Homo sapiens: one gene and its partner. The protein of the gene in region 1 interacts with the protein of each later gene in a pairwise test. Each region holds a gene or a part of one and is shown in the gene's direction. Other genes may lie near its edges.

Evidence for each region.
Region 2: the proteins of IPO7 (region 1) and HOXA10 interact in binary tests that used the Homo sapiens proteins (3 or more experiments, as listed by UniProt).

Annotation. Positions count from the first base shown.
Region 1 is NC_000011.10:9,379,849-9,388,857, forward strand, and holds the start of IPO7 (importin-7), read left to right. Parts: upstream 1-4,803; 5' UTR 4,804-4,915; coding exon 4,916-4,999; intron 5,000-9,009. UniProt on the Homo sapiens protein: Functions in nuclear protein import, either by acting as autonomous nuclear transport receptor or as an adapter-like protein in association with the importin-beta subunit KPNB1.
Region 2 is NC_000007.14:27,170,627-27,179,526, reverse strand, and holds the start of HOXA10 (homeobox protein Hox-A10), read left to right. Parts: upstream 1-5,206; 5' UTR 5,207-5,220; coding exon 5,221-6,178; intron 6,179-7,353; coding exon 7,354-7,628; 3' UTR 7,629-8,900. UniProt on the Homo sapiens protein: Sequence-specific transcription factor which is part of a developmental regulatory system that provides cells with specific positional identities on the anterior-posterior axis. Binds to the DNA sequence 5'-AA[AT]TTTTATTAC-3'.

The DNA of each region.
Region 1 (9,009 bases):
TATGGTATAACTATCTTTTTTTTTCTTTTTTGAGATGGAGTCTCAATGTGTCTCCCAGGCTGGCGTGCAGTGGTGCGATCTCAGGTCACTGCAACCTCCGCCTACCAGGTTCAAAAGATTCTCCCACCTCAGCCTCCCAAGTAGCTGGGATTACAGGCACGCACCACCACACTGTGGTAATTTTTTTATTTTTACTAGAAATGGAGTTTCACCATGTTGGCCAGGCTGGTCTTGAACTCCTGACCTCAGGTGATCCACCTGCCTTGGCCTCCCAAAGTGCTGGGATTAAAGGTGTGAGCCACTGAGTCAGGCCCAGCTCTTCTTCTTCTTCTTCTTCTTTTTTTTTTTTTTTTTTTTTTTTGAGACGGATCTCACTCTGTCGCCAGGATGGAGTGCAGTGGTGTGATCTCGGCTCACTGCAACCAACCTCCACCTCCTGGGTTCAAGCAATTCTTCTGCTTCATCCTCTTGAGTAGCTGGGACTACAGGTGCACGCCACCATGTCTAGCTGAGTTTTGTATTTTTAGTAGAGATGGGGTTTCACCATGTTGGCAAGGGTGGTCTCTAACTCTCCAACCTCGTGATCTGCCAGCCTCGGCCTCCCAAAGTGCTGAGATTACAGGCATGAGGAGCCACTGTGCCCGGCCGCATCTCTTCTTAATTTTTGTCTAATTTCATCCTACCTCAAAATCAACTCTGAGACTATGGTTTATGCTTTTCTGAATTCTCAGCCTTCACCTTGCCTAAGGAGGCTTAGATACCTGTGTTGGCTGCTGTGCTGGGGATTGGGATTGTGGGACACCATAAGGTTATGTAATTGTGTTTACAGTGGCTTAACAAACCACTTTTTTCATTAGTCTTCTCATACTTATTTATTGAGCACTCATTCATTTCTGTGTCTACCACAAAAAAGATGGATGTGGTCTCTGCCCTAGAGGAGTTCACACTGAAATTTCCAGTCACGTAAGTCACATTCTCTGTGTCACTAGCTTGACAAAATAAAACTAAAATCTACAAATAGGTTGAGTGTGCTAATCACTCTACCAACTAGCTCCTGAATGCTCCCTGGGGCCAAGCTCCTTTTTTGGATACAGGAATGCTGGCTCCCCAGACAGGATCTTGTACCCAGTGTGCTCTGTTCTCTATGAAGGATGAGACACAGGCCCCATGCCAGCTGTAGATCTGCAAGCCTCGTTGGCTCCCTGTTCCCAGCACTACAGCTTAAAACCATATTTTTCACTACCACTTCTTTTCCCTTTCAGTTTTAGGGAGAGGAAACTAACATTTTTGGACTACCTTCTATGTGCCAGGTTCTTTCATATACATTGTGCTCTGCTAAAATCTTCACAATTCCGTGATAAACAAGTCAATTCTGGAATCTAAAATAGGCATATAATATCAGAAAGAGGACTAGCTTTTGAATCATGAAGAATGAAGCTTCAATTCTGGCTCAGCCACCTATAAGTCATTACTAGTTTATTAATTCCTTTCTTCATTTATTCACTTAAAGAATTTTTTAAACTCCTCCTTTACATTCTAACTCTGTGGTAGGAGGTGAGGATACAAAGGTCAATAGAACATAAGCCTGTTTTCAAGGCCTTCACTTTGAGCAGTGGAGCAGGGAGAGGAAAATTCTTTTTATTTCTGAGACGGCGTTTCACTCTTGTTGCCCAGGCTGGAGTGCAATGGCACGATCTCAGCTCACTGCAACCTCCGCCTTCCGGGTTCAAACAATTCAGGGAGAGGAAAATTCTTAAACAGATTGTATTTGTAACACTATTACACTTTTTACAGGTTATTATTATGAAAACTTTCTGACTCCTCACAATTTAAGTAGCCTGAGCCTCGGGTTCTTCATTTGTAAATTTTTTTTTTTTGAGACGGAGTCTTGCTCTGTTGCCCAGGCTGGAGTGCACTGGTGCGATCTCAGCTCACTGCAACCTCTGCCTCCCTGGTCCAGGTGATTCTCCTGCCTCAGCCTCCTGAGTATCTGGGATTACAGGTGAGCACCACCATGCCTGGCTAATTTTTTTTTTTTTTTTGAGACAGAGTCTTGCTCAGTCGCCCAGGCTGGAATGCAGTGGCCCGATCTCGACTCACTGCAAGCTCCACTCCCCGGGTTACGCCATTCTCCTGCCTCAGCCTCCCGAGTAGCTGGGACTACAGGCACCGGCCACCACGCCCGGCTAATTTTTTTGTATTTTTATTTTTATTTATTTATTTATTTTATTTTTTATTTTTTATTTTTTTTGAGACGGAGTCTGGCTCTGTCCGCCAGGCTGGAGTGCAGTGGCGCGATCTTGGCTCACTGCAAGCTCCGCCTCTCGGGTTCGCGCCATTCTCCTGCCTCAGCCTCCCGAGCAGCTGGGACTACAGGCGCCCGCTACCGCGCTCGGCTAATTTTTTGTATTTTCAGTAGAGACAAGGTTTCACCATGTTAGTCAGGATGGTTTCGATCTCCTGACCTTGTGATCCGCCCGCCTCGGCCTCCCAAAGTGCTGGGATTACAGGCGTGAGCCACCGCGCCCGGTCTTTTTTGTATTTTTAGTAGAGAGAGGGTTTCACTGTGTTAGCCAGGATGATCTCGATCTCCTGACCTCGTAATCCGCCCGCCTTGGCCTCCCAAAGTGCTGGGATTACAGGCGTGAGCCACCGGGCCAGGCAATTTTTGTATTTTTAGTAGAGATGGGGTTTTGCCATGTTGGCCAGGCTGGTCTCGAACTCTTGACCTCAGGTGATCCCGCCCACCTCAGCCTCTCAAATTGCTGTGGTTACGGTTGTGAGCCACCATGCCCGGCCTAAATTAGGAATAATTCTGTCTTACTTCCAGTACTTCCAGGCACAGTGGCTGGCATATACAAGGTAGTAACATTGCAAAACCCACCGCTTCAGGGAAAGGCTTTCGTGAGCCTTTCCTTCTCTTTTTTTTGTAAATTAAAAACAATAAGTGATCATTTAACACATTGTATTTGAAGGCTTATAATTAATTTTAAGTATATCTGTTTATATAACTTTGTTACAATAATAACAGATATGAAAGGAAATTACTCCAAATCTCACCATCCTGTTAATAGAAAATAAATTATTTTCATTTGCTAACCTTGCTTTTCAGTCTTTGTCCATGTTACAAAGCTATATCCTTCCATAAATACTTTTTTGTTATATTTTTTAATGGCTGTGAAATATTTAATTTACTGGATTCTTGCTATTTGCTTAACCAGTCCTATATTGTTCAACATTTCTCTTCAGAGGCAGAGTGATTTAGTGGAAACAATGGAAAGTTTGAAAACAAAGATCTTAGGTTTGAAATCTTAGTTGAACCTCTTACTACGTGACCTTGGGTAAGTTATTTAACCTTTCTAAAACAAACTTTTTCTTGGCTGTTATAAAAGAGGACTTTTTCTTTCTTTCTTTCTCCCCCACCTCCCTCTTTTTTTAGAGATGGGGTCTCGCTATGTAGCCCAGGCTGTAGCGTAGTGGCTACTCATAGGCACGATCTTAACAGGCTGTCACCTTGAACTTCTGGTCTCAAGCAATCCTCCTGCCTCAACAGGAGGATTACGCCTGGCTAGGAAGGTGTCTTTTATTTTTATTTATTTATTTATTTATTTTTGAGATAGAGTCTCGCTCTGTCACCCAGGCTGGAGTGCAGTGGCATGATCTCGGCTCACTGCAAGCTCCACCTCCTGGATTCACGCCATTCTCCTGCCTCAGTGTAGCTGGGACTACAGGCGCCCACCACCACACCCGGCTAATTTTTTGTATTTTTAGTAGAGACGGGGCTTCACCGTGTTAGCTAGGATGGTCTCAATCTCCTGACCTTGTGATCCGCCCACCTTGGCCTCCCAAAGTGCTGGGATTACAGGTGTGAGCCACCGCGCCTGGCAGGAAGGTGTATTTTAATAGGGATTATGCTTTTACTCTGCATTAAGAGGTGATTTATATGAAGTCCCAACTAAAATTTGGATACTCAATAAAAAGCCATGATTTCAGTATTTGGTAATTACTAATACGTAATGTGATAAAAACCTTTCACACATAAAGTTCATTTAATCTTCCGTGTTATTGCCTTAGGATAAAGTCTCATAAGTGGAATTACTGGGTCAGAGTTTAAACATTTCGTTTCGTTTTGTTTTTTTGAGACGGAGTTTCGCTCTTGTTGCCCAAGCTGGAGTGCAATGGCACGATCTCGGCTCACTGCAACCTCCGCTTCCCGGGTTCAAGCGATTCTCCTGCCTCAGCCTCCCTAGTAGCTGAGACTACAGGCGCGTGCCACCACGCCCGGCTAATTTTTTGTATTTTTAGTAGAAACGGGGTTTCGCCGTGTTAGCCAGGATGCTCTCGATCTCCTGATCTCGTGATCCGCCCGCCTTGGCCTCCCAAAGTGCTGGGATTACAGGCGTGAACCACCGCGCCCGGCAGTTTAAATATTTTAGTGGCTATCAGAAACACATCTCAAATTGCTTTTCAGAAAGTTTCCTTCAATCACGCAGCCATTAGCAATCGATTGCACCACACACTGTATCTGACTCCCTTTATGAACATTGTGGATATAGTATGTGAAACCTTTTGTAACTGATTGTTTTGCTTTTCTTTTTGTGGAACTTGAACATTTTTCGTTTTTGAACAGAAAGACTTGTCTGTAGGAACGACAGCTCAGGCAGCCACGTGGGCTGCGGACTGTGTTTGTGGACTACATCTCCCAAAGTGCTCCGCAGGCGCGCCCACAGGAAGTCGCCGGAGCATCTCCCGCCTCCACGCCGAGGCGAAGAGGTTCTATCCGGGGCCTTGGCGCTTCTCTTTCCTTTCGCGCCGGTTGCCGCTGCGGAGCGCGGCGGGTCCATGTGCGCAGTGAGTGGCGCTATTCCTGGCCCAGTAGCACCCGAGCCCCGGGTTTGACCGAGTCCGCGCTGCGATGGACCCCAACACCATTATCGAGGCCCTGCGGGGCACTATGGACCCAGCCCTGCGTGAGGCCGCGGAGCGCCAGCTCAATGAAGTAAGGACGCCCGGCTAGCGGTGGCGGCGGGCAGGCGGGTGGGCAGAAGTGGCAGGCCGAGCCCCCGGGGCCTGGCCGGAGGCGCGGACGACGTCGTTGAGGGTCCCAGCAGGAGGGTGGGGCGGACATCTGACGGCGACTTCCACGCCGGGGCGCCTCGGTGTGGTGTGGTGGTGGTGGCTGCAGCCAAGGCTGCCTTTGCTTCGGATCCTGAGCTGGGCCTCTGGCTGCGGTCTAGGCATGAGGAGCCGGCTGAGGCGGGGCGGGCGTGACGGGTTGGACACATGGCTGGCTCGGGTGGCTGGCCGACCTCTGGCTCATTCCCAGCTGGTTCCTCACGTCCAGGAGGGGGCGAAACTTACTGGGAGGTTTTTCAGATGTTTCTGAGACCAGTCTCGCCGTCGCAGGGTTTGGAAGGGCTCCTGGGAATGCCGGCTGGTCCTTTGGGGGCTGCGCCTGTCATCCTTGTCACTTTGCTGGGCTGATCAGTGGCCTGCCTCGGGCACAACTTCCTCCTCTCTGGCTGAGTTGCTAGGGAAGGCTTTCAAAGGCAAGCCCGCGCCTCCTTGGCAGGATAGGAGTAGTGCGGGACACTCACAGAGTCTGATCCCTGCTTTTCCGCTGTCCTAATGCTTCAGTCGGGGAGCTGGCTTATGTAGTGGGAAGGATCAGGTGAAGTGCACCCTTCTAGGTATAGCTGCACCATTGATTCCTTGAGTGACCTTGGGCCAGTCGCTTAACCTCTTGATCCTGAGTTTTTCCCATTCATAAAATTACGCCACAGAGTTGCTGTGACAGACAGGTGAGATAATGTTAAGTCTGAGTGCCTTGGAACATGCTGAGCTCCTTATCAGTTCAGATATTGCATTCTCTGAAGGTTTTTTTTTTCCCCCATATTTTGTGGGGACCGCTCCTTGGAAAACAGCTTAATTGCATGAATATTTATTGTACTATCTCCAGTGTCATTCTTTGTTTCTAAACTTTTGCATTTTTACGTATTAATGATCAGTATTTTAAATCCTTCTTAAAAGGGCTGCTGTAACTTTTCTGCCAGTTAGTAACTGTCCTTCAGCATGCTGCTGAATCTGCCAGCTTTACTGAACTTTAGTGTACATTTTTTAACTGAAAAAGAAATCACACTTTAAAATAGAAATTCAACTATTTTATGCGTCTTTTAGCTGGTAAGTAAATAATTTAAAAACATTGTTTATATTGACTTACCAGAAACAGCAGAAATATTACTAACTGGACTTTCAGTGTAAAGGGCTGCACTAGAGATCCCTGCCCTCACGGAACTTACAGTTCAAGAAGACTACCTACAGAGTTTACACAAATTAAATGTAAAATTATTTCAGAATGTTAAATCTATTTTATATGTAAATGAGATCATTATTATACCACACAAAGTGATGATTACATGTTCAAATTTTTAGACTCAGAGTCACCTTGGGAGGAGCTTAGATTTTTTTGGATATAAAATAGTGAGTTGAACCGTATTACCATTTTGAACCATTACCAAACTATGGAAGGAGCAATGGATCACTTTTTGTTTTGATTTGCTTAGTGATAGACATGGGTTAAGTTGAAAATTATTTTGCTTATTAAATAGTAATGCAGTTACAAGCCTAGAAAAGCTAAAAGTTTAGTCATGGTCATTTCTACCATGACTTTGCTCTAATCGCGTATTATTTTGACTAATTATACTTGCATGTAATTATTAATTTTAAAAGTGAGTACTTGAAGAGTTGGTTTGCTTCTACAAAAATGGGGGAAATAATACTTCCTGAAAATCTGAAATTCATTTATTCCTCAAATAGACATTACATGTCTAGTATATGCACTAACATCTTGTAGTAGAAACCTGGGGTATTTCACAAGCTAGTTTTTGGAAGATAAACAAATGATCAAAATAGTATTCAATGCCTTTTTTACTTAACCATTAAACTACTGTTTTGGAATACTGTCAAACAGTGAACACCGCTAATCTGTCAAAGAAAATTTGTTACATGGCCTTTATTTTTGTAATCCTTAACTATTTACATTTCATACATTTCTTTCAATTATAACACCTAGATTTTTAAATATTCTTCCTAAGGTAAATTTTCTATTAGTATATTTACTTTCATTCCATTTTAATACACTACTTCTCCCTCTCCCTTCTTCCATTTAAATATTTTTTGCTTTGACTTTCTTGTGGCAGAACATTGATTTGGGAGACAGATCTCAGACAAGTCTTGAATATTGTTAAGAATGAGGAAGTAACATTTCTGAAAGGCTCTTGCTTTGGAGAAGATAGAAGAACGAATTATTCTATGATGTCTCTCATTCCAGTGAAGCTGTGTTTTGGTTCATTTAGAACCAAAGAATAAGATCATTGACATTTGAATGAATCTCTTCACAAAGTGAAATAATCACTGACTCAATGTAAAATTTGTAAATGTTATTAAAGTGTTTATAGTATAGACAGTTTCGAAACAAAATAGCCCTTCTGCCTCAGAGTCTTTGCACTTAACTCCTTGGAACTCCTTTCACATAGTTATCCCCCTAACTTGTTCTCTCATTTCCTTCCATCCCTGTTCAAATGTCTCCTTATCACTGAGGAGTTCCTTGACCATCATACTCCCTATCTCCTTTCACTTGTTTTTCTCTATAGCACTGATTTGTCATACATATTTGGCTTACTTTTAAAATTAATTTTATTTGGCCAGGCACGGTGGCTCACGCCTGTAATCCCAGCATTTTGTGAGGCTGAGGCGGACTGATCACTTGAGGTTGGGAGTTTGAGACCAGCCTGACCAACATGGAGAAACCCCATCTCTACTAAGAATACAAAATTAGCTGGGCGCGGTGGCGCATGCTTGTAATCCCAGCTACTCAGGAGGCTGAGGCAGAAGAATCGCTTGAACCTGGGAGGCGGAGGTTGCGGTGAGCTGAGATCGTGCCACTGCACTCCAGCCTGGGCAACAGAGTGAGACTCCATCTCAAAAAAATTAATTAATTAATTAAATTTAAAACATTGGCTGGGCATGGTGGCTCATGCCTGGAATTCCAGCACTTTGGGAGTCCGAGGCGGGCGGATCACCTGAGGTTGGGAGTTCGAGACCAGCCTGACCAACATGGAGAAACCCCGTCTCTACTAAAAATACAAAATTAGCTGGGCGTGGTGGCGCATGCCTGTAATCCCAGCTACTAGGGAGGCTGAGGCAGGAGAATCGCTTGAACCCGGGAGGTGGAGGTTGCGGTGAGCCGAGATCGTACCATTGCACTCCAGCCTGAGCAACAAGAGCGAAACTGCGTCTCAAAAAATAAAAATAAAAATAAATAAATAAATAAATTTTTTTTTTTTTGAGACGGAGTCTTGCTCTTGTTGCCCAGGCTGGAGTGCAGTGGCGCAATATGAGCCCACCGCAACTTCTGCCTCCTGGGTTCAAGCAATTCTCCTGCCTCAGCCTCCCAAGTAGCTGGGATTACAGGCGTTTGCCACCACACCTGGCTAATTCTGTATTTTTAGCAGAGATGGGGTTTTACCATGTTGGCCAGGCTGGTCTCCAACTCCTGACCTTGTGATCCGCCCACCTCGGCCTCCCAAAGTGCTGGGATTACAGGAATGAGCCACCATGCCCAGCCTATTTATTTATATTTATTTTTTGAGACAGGGTCTTGCTCCATCACCCAGGCTGGAGTGCAGTGGCACCATCATGGCTCACTGCAGCCTCTCCCTCTCGGGCTCAAGCAACACTCCCACTTCAGCCTCCCAGGTAGCTGAGACTACGGGGATGTGCCACTATGCCCAATTAATTTTTGTATTTTTTGTAGAGACAAGGTTTCACCGTGTTGCCCAGGCTTATTTTTAATTTTTTCAGAGCTAAGGCCTTGCTATGTTACCCAGGCTGGAGTGCAGTGGGCTCCACTGCACTACATAGTACACTACAGCCTAGAACTCTTGGCCTCAAGCAGCGTCCTCCCATCTGAGCCTCCCAGGTGGCTGGGACTGCAGACACGTGCTACCA
Region 2 (8,900 bases), on another chromosome or scaffold:
CCCACCCCATTGCTCCCTAAGGTTGGAAAGCAGGGGGAGGCCTAAGTAGAAAAGTTGAGGATTTTAGCTCCTTGCGCCAGCATTTCACTCAAGGCGAATCTTTCGATTTTGTAGAAATACACAGAATAGAATGGGCTAGGGATGAGAGGCATCTAGGCGAAAGTGTTCCAGCTGTGCTGCGATAGGGGGTTGTGGGAGGGCAAAAAAAAAAAAAAAGGTGATCGCGGGTTGAGGAAAACAAAGTTTCCATTCTAAACAATGGGGTGGTAGAAGTCTGCGGCCGCTAAGGCGAGCTTATTCCCAGGGGCAGAAGTCCTGGAGGTCACTGGTTTCCTACTAGGTGCATCTCTATGTCTGCCCGGCAGCTTGGAGAAAACCTTTGTTCCGAAAAAGGCCAATTCGGAGAAGTCGCATGTGATTTTTGAGAGTGCCAGACAAGTCTCTGTGTTGCATACTTGGAGTACGCTGTTATAAACCCAGCTGCAATTTCGCAGCAATTTCTTACATATGAAAATTAGATCTTTTGTAGAAGATATTTTGCAAATATGCAAAAATGTATTGGTAAATACTAATACTTTTTTAAAAAGCTGGAACCGAGGATAAATTTTGACGGAGCAATCACTCCATTGGGGTTGTCATCAAACACATTTTAAATGAAAAAATTCCATTACATTTTGAAGGATCGATTCAAATTCCCTCTTTCTCCTATATTTAATTTTTTCTACTATTTTTCCATTAGTTTCCCACATCTTTTTCTTTTCCCAAATATACAGTGCGTGGTGAGTGGGGTGAATCCCAGAGAAAGTAGGCACTGCCTGTTTGTTGCGTAAATTTTGCCTATCATAGTTACTAGTCTTTGTTGAAGGCTGGCTCCCAAACTATGACGGAGCAAAGCAACAAGGCAAGAAATGAGCGCCCACCCAGTGAGCTGCTCTCTGCAGCGGGAGCCCTCCCTACAATGCCAGAGCCGCCTCCAGTTCTAAGGCCAGAGGCTGTTTATTATGAACAAATCTAAGAATATTGCAATTCAAAGGGTGTGTGAAAAGGCCCCAACACTTCCCTAACAGGGGAAGGGCCATCTTAATGGTTGGATTTAGAAAACTTTAAAAGTATGTTGTTTAGTAATAGATTGCACCTGATAGATTCAAAACAGACACATCAAATATCCCTGAAAATGTTGACATTCTTAAAGATGAATGGGAAAAGAACATCATTGCTTGTGGAAAAATTTTCTAACTATGCATAAATGCATGGATATGAGAAGCTCTGATTTTTTTTTCTTTTTTTGCTAAAGCCAGATATGTAAAAGCAGCCTTTATTTTTCCTCTGTGGGACTGCAGCCCAACTCCACCGCTGGATAATTCAGAGTCTTGAAAGCATTGAGAGTGCCCTCCAGATATAAATTGTTTACTAGCAGTTTCGATCTCAGGACCTGGTATCTTTTCATTAGGAACTTGTTTTTCATAATAGTTTATTTCTCACTGCTTACAAGGGCCTACTCAGAAGGAGTACCTAGTGAACTGCAGCCTAATCCTTGCCGAAGGCCTTAATCCATGGGCCTGGTGTTTACTTTGGCCCCATAGGGCTGGCAGGTTATTACCCGGGTAGAAATGGGCAATATTTCCTCCTAAATAAAACATGGGCTCTGGAGGTGACTGTGTAACCGCTGCATAAGGCCTGGTTGAGGCAAGCAGGCACTGAAGATTTAGGTCAAAGTTACCCTGAGGGAGAGGGAGAAATTTAGTAGCTGGGAAGAATGGCAAAAAAGAAAGAAGGCAAATGAGCACGAGGGAGGAAAAGTGCTTGGAAGCCGACCCACACTACAACTGAATCGCTTTCTTCATCTCTTGGGGTGGGGAATCTCAGGAAAGCCGAGGCGCTCAATAAATGGAATATTTTATTGAGAAACCTAACACTCCAGTGTTAAAGTCTAGAGAGCATGGGAGCCTTGGGGGTCGGTCAGGGATGCTGGGGGCTAGGAGACCAACTGAGAGGGCCAAGGAGGCGTTTAACTTGAGCTTCTGCTGCGTTAGTATCCTCTCATTTGAACCAGCAGCAGCCGGCCCGCCTGCAGCCGGCCAGCTCACCGGCAGTGTCTCGCTGCGTTTCCCACTCAGCAAGCCCTGGTGGGAGTTGGAAGGCAGTCCTGGGCCAGAGAGGGGCTGCCATACATGAGCTTACACACTCTTTTTAAAAGCCAGAAGGAGCTCAAGCCCAACATCCCGTTTGGTTTATTACAAGGGGGAAAAAGTCATACTAAAGAAACACATCTGGCTCACCACAGAAAGGTCACTGAAGACCCAAGTGCCAACGCCACGGCTTGCGAGGCCCATAGCAGGCCTCCCAGCTCCTCTACTCTTCGGCTGGGGCAGCCTTTTGTAGCAGATGCGATACAAACTGACTTTTGTAACCTTGGTTGGCACGTGCAGGTCCCTGGATTCTATCCAGCCTAGAAGCCCATTTGGCTGCCCTACGGGGCCCTGACCTGAGCTGTCTGCTGCAGGGCACCCAGCTTGTCTTGCCAGCCAAATTGGCAGGGCCCCCAAGTCCCAGGACACTGGGGGACTCTGGAAGACCCAAGGAAAAGACTGAGGGGTGTGTGAACTCCTTCGAAATGATGGATCAAATTGTGGGAATATACAGATATGCATTTTTCACAGAATGAGTCAAAACTTACTTGGATTTTCCAGAAGGGTCCTGACTCCCTAAAAGGTTAGGAAAGATAGGTTAAGATCATTGTCTTTTACTTTATTTGTATAGCCTCCACTATCTCAAATATATACTGGACCTTCCCAGATGTCGGCCTGGGAAGTTGCTTTCTGCATTTAGCCTGGAGAGGCATGACTCTAGGCCCAGGTCCTGGCCCACTGACCTGCCACGGCTCATTATCCTTGAGGAAACCTCGAAGGTCTTGGGACCCACTTGCCAAATGACACAGCTTTTCTGAGAGGCATGGGCAGTGCTGAAGAGCAAAGCTTCCTTCCTAGGCAGCCCCCAGCTCTGTGGCATTTCCAGGTGGCATTGCTAAGGGCAACAGTCCCAGCCAGTTCCACCCTTCTGGTGAGCAGGGTAAGGACCAGGCAGATCCGGGAAGCTAAAGATAGGGCCACTGGCTGCGGTGCTCTGAAGCTTTTCTGCACTCAGGTTCGTCCGTCTCATGGGCCTAGAGGGTAGAGAATTTGCCTTGGCCTTGGGCGCAGGAGCATGCGAAGAGCGAAGGAGAGTTAATGATCTCTTGGCACAGACCCTGTCTTGATCCCTCTAAAGCCGCTGCTGCAGCTTCAAGACCCTGTCAGGCTGGAGAGAACTGGCTTTCTTATTCTCTCTCCCCTCCTGTTTCTCTCTCTTTTCTCTCCCTCTGTCCGTCTCTCCTTCTATCTCTCTCTTTTTCTCTCCATCCTCCTCCTCCGCACCCTGATGCTCAGTCCTTACGGCCGGGTCACCGTGGGGCGCCGAGGTTGAAGTGGCTGGAGCGCCGCGCTAGCGGTGGAGCGGCCTTCTGGGCCCGGAGCTCGGAGCAGCCACTGCCCGCAGCGACCGCAGCTGCTTGAATCTCAGAAGCCAGAGCTGGAGCTCTACCTAGCCAGCTCTCTCTGCGCTTTCAGGGTCCTCTCAGGCTCCTCTTCCACCTTGGGCTGGATTCACACTGGGAGGAAGGAGGCAAAGTGCCGCGTATGACCCGGATGCAAGAGTCTTTCCCAGCTGAAGGCAGCGGCCTGAGCGGTCTATTTCCTGGGATGCCGGCGTTCAGTAATGCCAGCTCCGACTGGGGCCGGAGGGGCGGGCAGGCCTAGAGTATCCTGGAGACCTGTAGCCCACGGGCCAGGGGCAAGGCAGCGACCTCCCGGGCTCCACTGGATCTGGCCGGAAAAGGTTGCATTTCCTGAGACTAGCATGAGGCTCACACTTGGGGGCTAGCACCCCAGGCCGGCCATTTCCAGTTGGCTAAAACAGAGCCCCTGAGCCTGCTGAGCAAAGGGCCTGACCTCCACATGCTCTTATAACAGGACCATGAGCCCAGCCCGGCCTTGCAGGGAAAGGATTTCCTCACCGAGGCCTCGTTAAAATGCACACACTGCAGGAGCAAGGACTGCCCTAGCTGAGGGTATGGGAGGGAGGGGAAGAGGGGAGGGGACAGAGAGGTAGGAGTGTAGTGACACTGGTTCTTGTTGTAGCCTCCAGGAGCATATGAGTGCCAAAGCTAACAGGAGAGCAGGAACATAAAGCAGCGGAGGTGTACACCGGGCACACCCCTCCAAGTCTCTCACTTTGGGCCAGCCAAGGACCCCAAGGCCAGCATTTTACTTCCCCGAAATGACTGTGGGCTTAGAGTCTTCCCTAGGTGATGAGGGGATGCTTGGATCTGGCTCTGGCCTTGGGAGTGGGAGTGGGGCCGTCTTTCCATCAAGGCTGGCAGCCGCTTCCCACCCCCAGTCCCGCCAGCCCACCAAAGTCCACTGACAGGAGTTGTAGAGAAGGCAAGCCGGGTGAGCACAACACCAGAGGAGAAGATCCTAACTGGATCAACGGACTAGGGGAGAAAAGTGTTGGGGGTTAGGGGCTAGGGAACAACCACTGCATTTTGGGGAAAAATCTGTGGATACTGGAAGTAGAGGCAAGTCAGCTTCTAGTTCACTCTGGGCTCCTGACACTCTGAGGATCCTGACGGCCATAGGGCCAGGTTCGCCACTTTTGAGGAGGCAGAATTCAGACAAGGGGCCAGTTCCAGATCCAGAGCTGAATGGGAAGCGCGTGAGTCCCCGACACGGCCGCTTCAGTGGTTAGAGTACACCGGGGACTAGTGGCAGCTTCTGCGACAGGGATGGTGAGCACCCAAGGCAGACTGGGCGCGCACCATAAACACCCCACTTGTTAACTGCGCGGGGCCCAAGGGCCCTTCTAAGGGACCCCGGTATGGGGCTCACGTCCGGGTAGGGGCGGGGCGAGCCCAATGGCCAGGCCCCCCACCAGCCACGTTGGGGCAGCCCCCACAGCTCCCGGCCTTCGGGCCAAGGTGTCGGGGTGCGTCTCCTGGCCCATCAATACAGATTACATATTTATATCAATCGCGGGCTCTGAGGGCGCCCTCGGAGAGCGGCCCCGCGCCTACGAAACCAAACTGGGAGTGGTCGCGCGGAAACTCTGGCTCGGGATTGGCTGCGGGCGCCCGCCGCGGTGCGGGGGGATTGCTAATCGTATTCAGCATGTTTTGCACAAGAAATGTCAGCCAGAAAGGGCTATCTGCTCCCTTCGCCAAATTATCCCACAACAATGTCATGCTCGGAGAGCCCCGCCGCGAACTCTTTTTTGGTCGACTCGCTCATCAGCTCGGGCAGAGGCGAGGCAGGCGGCGGTGGTGGTGGCGCGGGGGGCGGCGGCGGTGGCGGTTACTACGCCCACGGCGGGGTCTACCTGCCGCCCGCCGCCGACCTGCCCTACGGGCTGCAGAGCTGCGGGCTCTTCCCCACGCTGGGCGGCAAGCGCAATGAGGCAGCGTCGCCGGGCAGCGGTGGCGGTGGCGGGGGTCTAGGTCCCGGGGCGCACGGCTACGGGCCCTCGCCCATAGACCTGTGGCTAGACGCGCCCCGGTCTTGCCGGATGGAGCCGCCTGACGGGCCGCCGCCGCCGCCCCAGCAGCAGCCGCCGCCCCCGCCGCAACCACCCCAGCCAGCGCCGCAGGCCACCTCGTGCTCTTTCGCGCAGAACATCAAAGAAGAGAGCTCCTACTGCCTCTACGACTCGGCGGACAAATGCCCCAAAGTCTCGGCCACCGCCGCCGAACTGGCTCCCTTCCCGCGGGGCCCGCCGCCCGACGGCTGCGCCCTGGGCACCTCCAGCGGGGTGCCAGTGCCTGGCTACTTCCGCCTTTCTCAGGCCTACGGCACCGCCAAGGGCTATGGCAGCGGCGGCGGCGGCGCGCAGCAACTCGGGGCTGGCCCGTTCCCCGCGCAGCCCCCGGGGCGCGGTTTCGATCTCCCGCCCGCGCTAGCCTCCGGCTCGGCCGATGCGGCCCGGAAGGAGCGAGCCCTCGATTCGCCGCCGCCCCCCACGCTGGCTTGCGGCAGCGGCGGGGGCTCGCAGGGCGACGAGGAGGCGCACGCGTCGTCCTCGGCCGCGGAGGAGCTCTCCCCGGCCCCTTCCGAGAGCAGCAAAGCCTCGCCGGAGAAGGATTCCCTGGGTAAGCAGGGCTGCAGAGGGCTGCAGTCAGGCGGGCAGACAGGCAGACACAAGGAGGAGAAGGATCAGAAAACTAGGAGCCCGCGCAGCAGCCGGCCGGCCTTGGCCCAAGCTGCAGGCAGGCTGACCTTGTGAACTTGCTTTTTAATATTTGGGCGTGGGGACGCAGTAAAATTCATGTCCGGCTTAGCGCCCCACAGCAAGACGTCCTCGGCGCTGGCCTCAGCTCCCCCTGACTAGGGACGAGGACACCAGCGAGCAGGCCCCCTCCTGTGCGCTCTTTCCTGTGGCCGGGAGGACCCAGAGCCCTGGTCCCTGCCCAGCCTGCGCGGCGCGGCCCACGCGGGGGGAGGGGGAGGGAGGGAAAGTAGCTCGCCCGCAGATAGCGCGGATGTTTGTAAGGCATCCAAAATAAGCAGCCGCCAGCGCCAATAAATAAGCCCATTAACCGGCGAAGTTCGAGTTTACGATCCCCCATGCTTTTTTCAAAGTTGCTGAGGGGCGGGAATCTTCGTTGCGGGAAGAAGAAAAGGCAAATCCGGCCTGGAAGCGGGGGGCCCTGAGCTGAGAGCCAGAGAAGGGCCATTTCCCTTCCCCTGGACCTCGGAATCGCCCAGCTATCTATCCCTGGCTCCTGGAGAAACTTGAGGGAGGGCCCTTGACCCCCGAATCGGTTTTTCCTGCCTTCCCCATTGGACCAATGATGCCCTTCTTTCTCCCCTTATCGAGTCTTGGGCAATCAGGGCCCTGGGGTGAGACAGCCAAGCTGCCTGGCCCATCTTCCAAGTAAGCACCCCGCGCTCCTAGCCTGGGGGCTACAGGAAATGCTTGTCTGCCATATGGCAAGAGGCAAAGAAAAGCGTTAAGTTCAAGATGTACAGCCTGCCCTCCCAGGCCTTTCCTTCTGCAAGCATCTACGGCTTAGCGCTAAAACAGGTGTTTGGAAAAGTGGGGGAAATGTAAATTGGAAGGGTCATGTAGATTGAAGGCCCACTCAATTTTTGTCATGACTTTTGGAGGAACTGCTTGCTCTCAGCAAGCCAAAAACGGGGGCACGACTCTCTTCTCTGTGACTTGGGACATCTCTCTTATGGGAGAAACGGAGGCAATTCACCCCCGCGGGCAGCCCGTGTGGCCTCGACTTAATCATCCCCTCTTTATTCTCTTACATGCCAGGCAATTCCAAAGGTGAAAACGCAGCCAACTGGCTCACGGCAAAGAGTGGTCGGAAGAAGCGCTGCCCCTACACGAAGCACCAGACACTGGAGCTGGAGAAGGAGTTTCTGTTCAATATGTACCTTACTCGAGAGCGGCGCCTAGAGATTAGCCGCAGCGTCCACCTCACGGACAGACAAGTGAAAATCTGGTTTCAGAACCGCAGGATGAAACTGAAGAAAATGAATCGAGAAAACCGGATCCGGGAGCTCACAGCCAACTTTAATTTTTCCTGATGAATCTCCAGGCGACGCGGTTTTTTCACTTCCCGAGCGCTGGTCCCCTCCCTCTGTCTTCAGGCTCTGCCCAGGAACTCGCACCTGTGCTGGAGCCCTGTTCCTCCCTCCCACACTCGCCATCTCCTGGGCCGTTACATCTGTGCAGGGCTGGTTTGTTCTGACTTTTTGTTTCTTTGTGTTTGCTTGGTGCTGGTTTATTTGTTGTTTTCTGGGGGAAAAAGCCATATCATGCTAAAATTCTATAGAGATAGATATTGTCCTAAGTGTCAAGTCCTGACTGGGCTGGGTTTGCTGTCTTGGGGTCCCACTGCTCGAAATGGCCCCTGTCTTCGGCCGAGCTGGTTTCCTGCCCAGCCTGGGGCAAACCTAGCCGGAAGGCCGAGGTCCCATTGTTGGCGCTGAGGTGTCTGGCCTGAGGTCAATGGTGCAAAGGAGCCGCCACCGGGCATGTCTGCCTGGAGTGCTGTGCTGTGTTTAATCAGGGGATACAGGCCCCTGGGTTTCTTTTTTCTTTCTTCCTTTCTTCCTTGGCCAAGAGAAGGGCTTACAGGCATGGACATGCAGGTTGGCAAACGGGCTTGACTTTGGCTGATTTAAAAAGTGAGAAAGAAAGTAAAAAAGGTTAATTTTTCCTTCCTCTGTAAGATATCCCAGCTTTAAAAAGAAAAAAAAAGAATTACCAAGAGAAGGGGACTTCTCTTCCAGTTTCTGTAAGGTCTTACATTGCCTGACTAAAATGTTTCATTTACCTCTAAATTTCCATATCCTTCTGGCTGTAGATAAATAATGTAGTTTTGTTTATGCATTTGGAATTAGTGGATTTTTTTGTCATTAAAATTGTTACCACTGGTAACATGTGACAAGCACACCACAATTCTCCCTATCTTGTGAAGTTGTTTTTTTAAATCGCCTTGAACAAAAAGTTTTTTTTTTGTTTGTTTTTGCTTTCTGAAATTCACAGAAGCCTAGGAGGACTGGGGTAAGCGGAATAAACTAGAGAAGGGAGACATTGTTTGGATTTCCTTTATACTGTGAAGTTACATGCATAAAAGGGTCAAACCTGTAGATGCAGAAAAAGAAAAAAACTATAAATACAAATCTGTATAAATGTCTATTATTATGAAGAATTGCCAATCTTGTTTTAAGCAAATGCATTCTATCGTTATTATAAATGTTAGTTCTAGCTCTATTTACTTCTAATCTTAAATCAGAATAAATTAATATTGTATTGCTGCTGTGCGTGGAAAAAGACGATGTTTATGTTCTTAT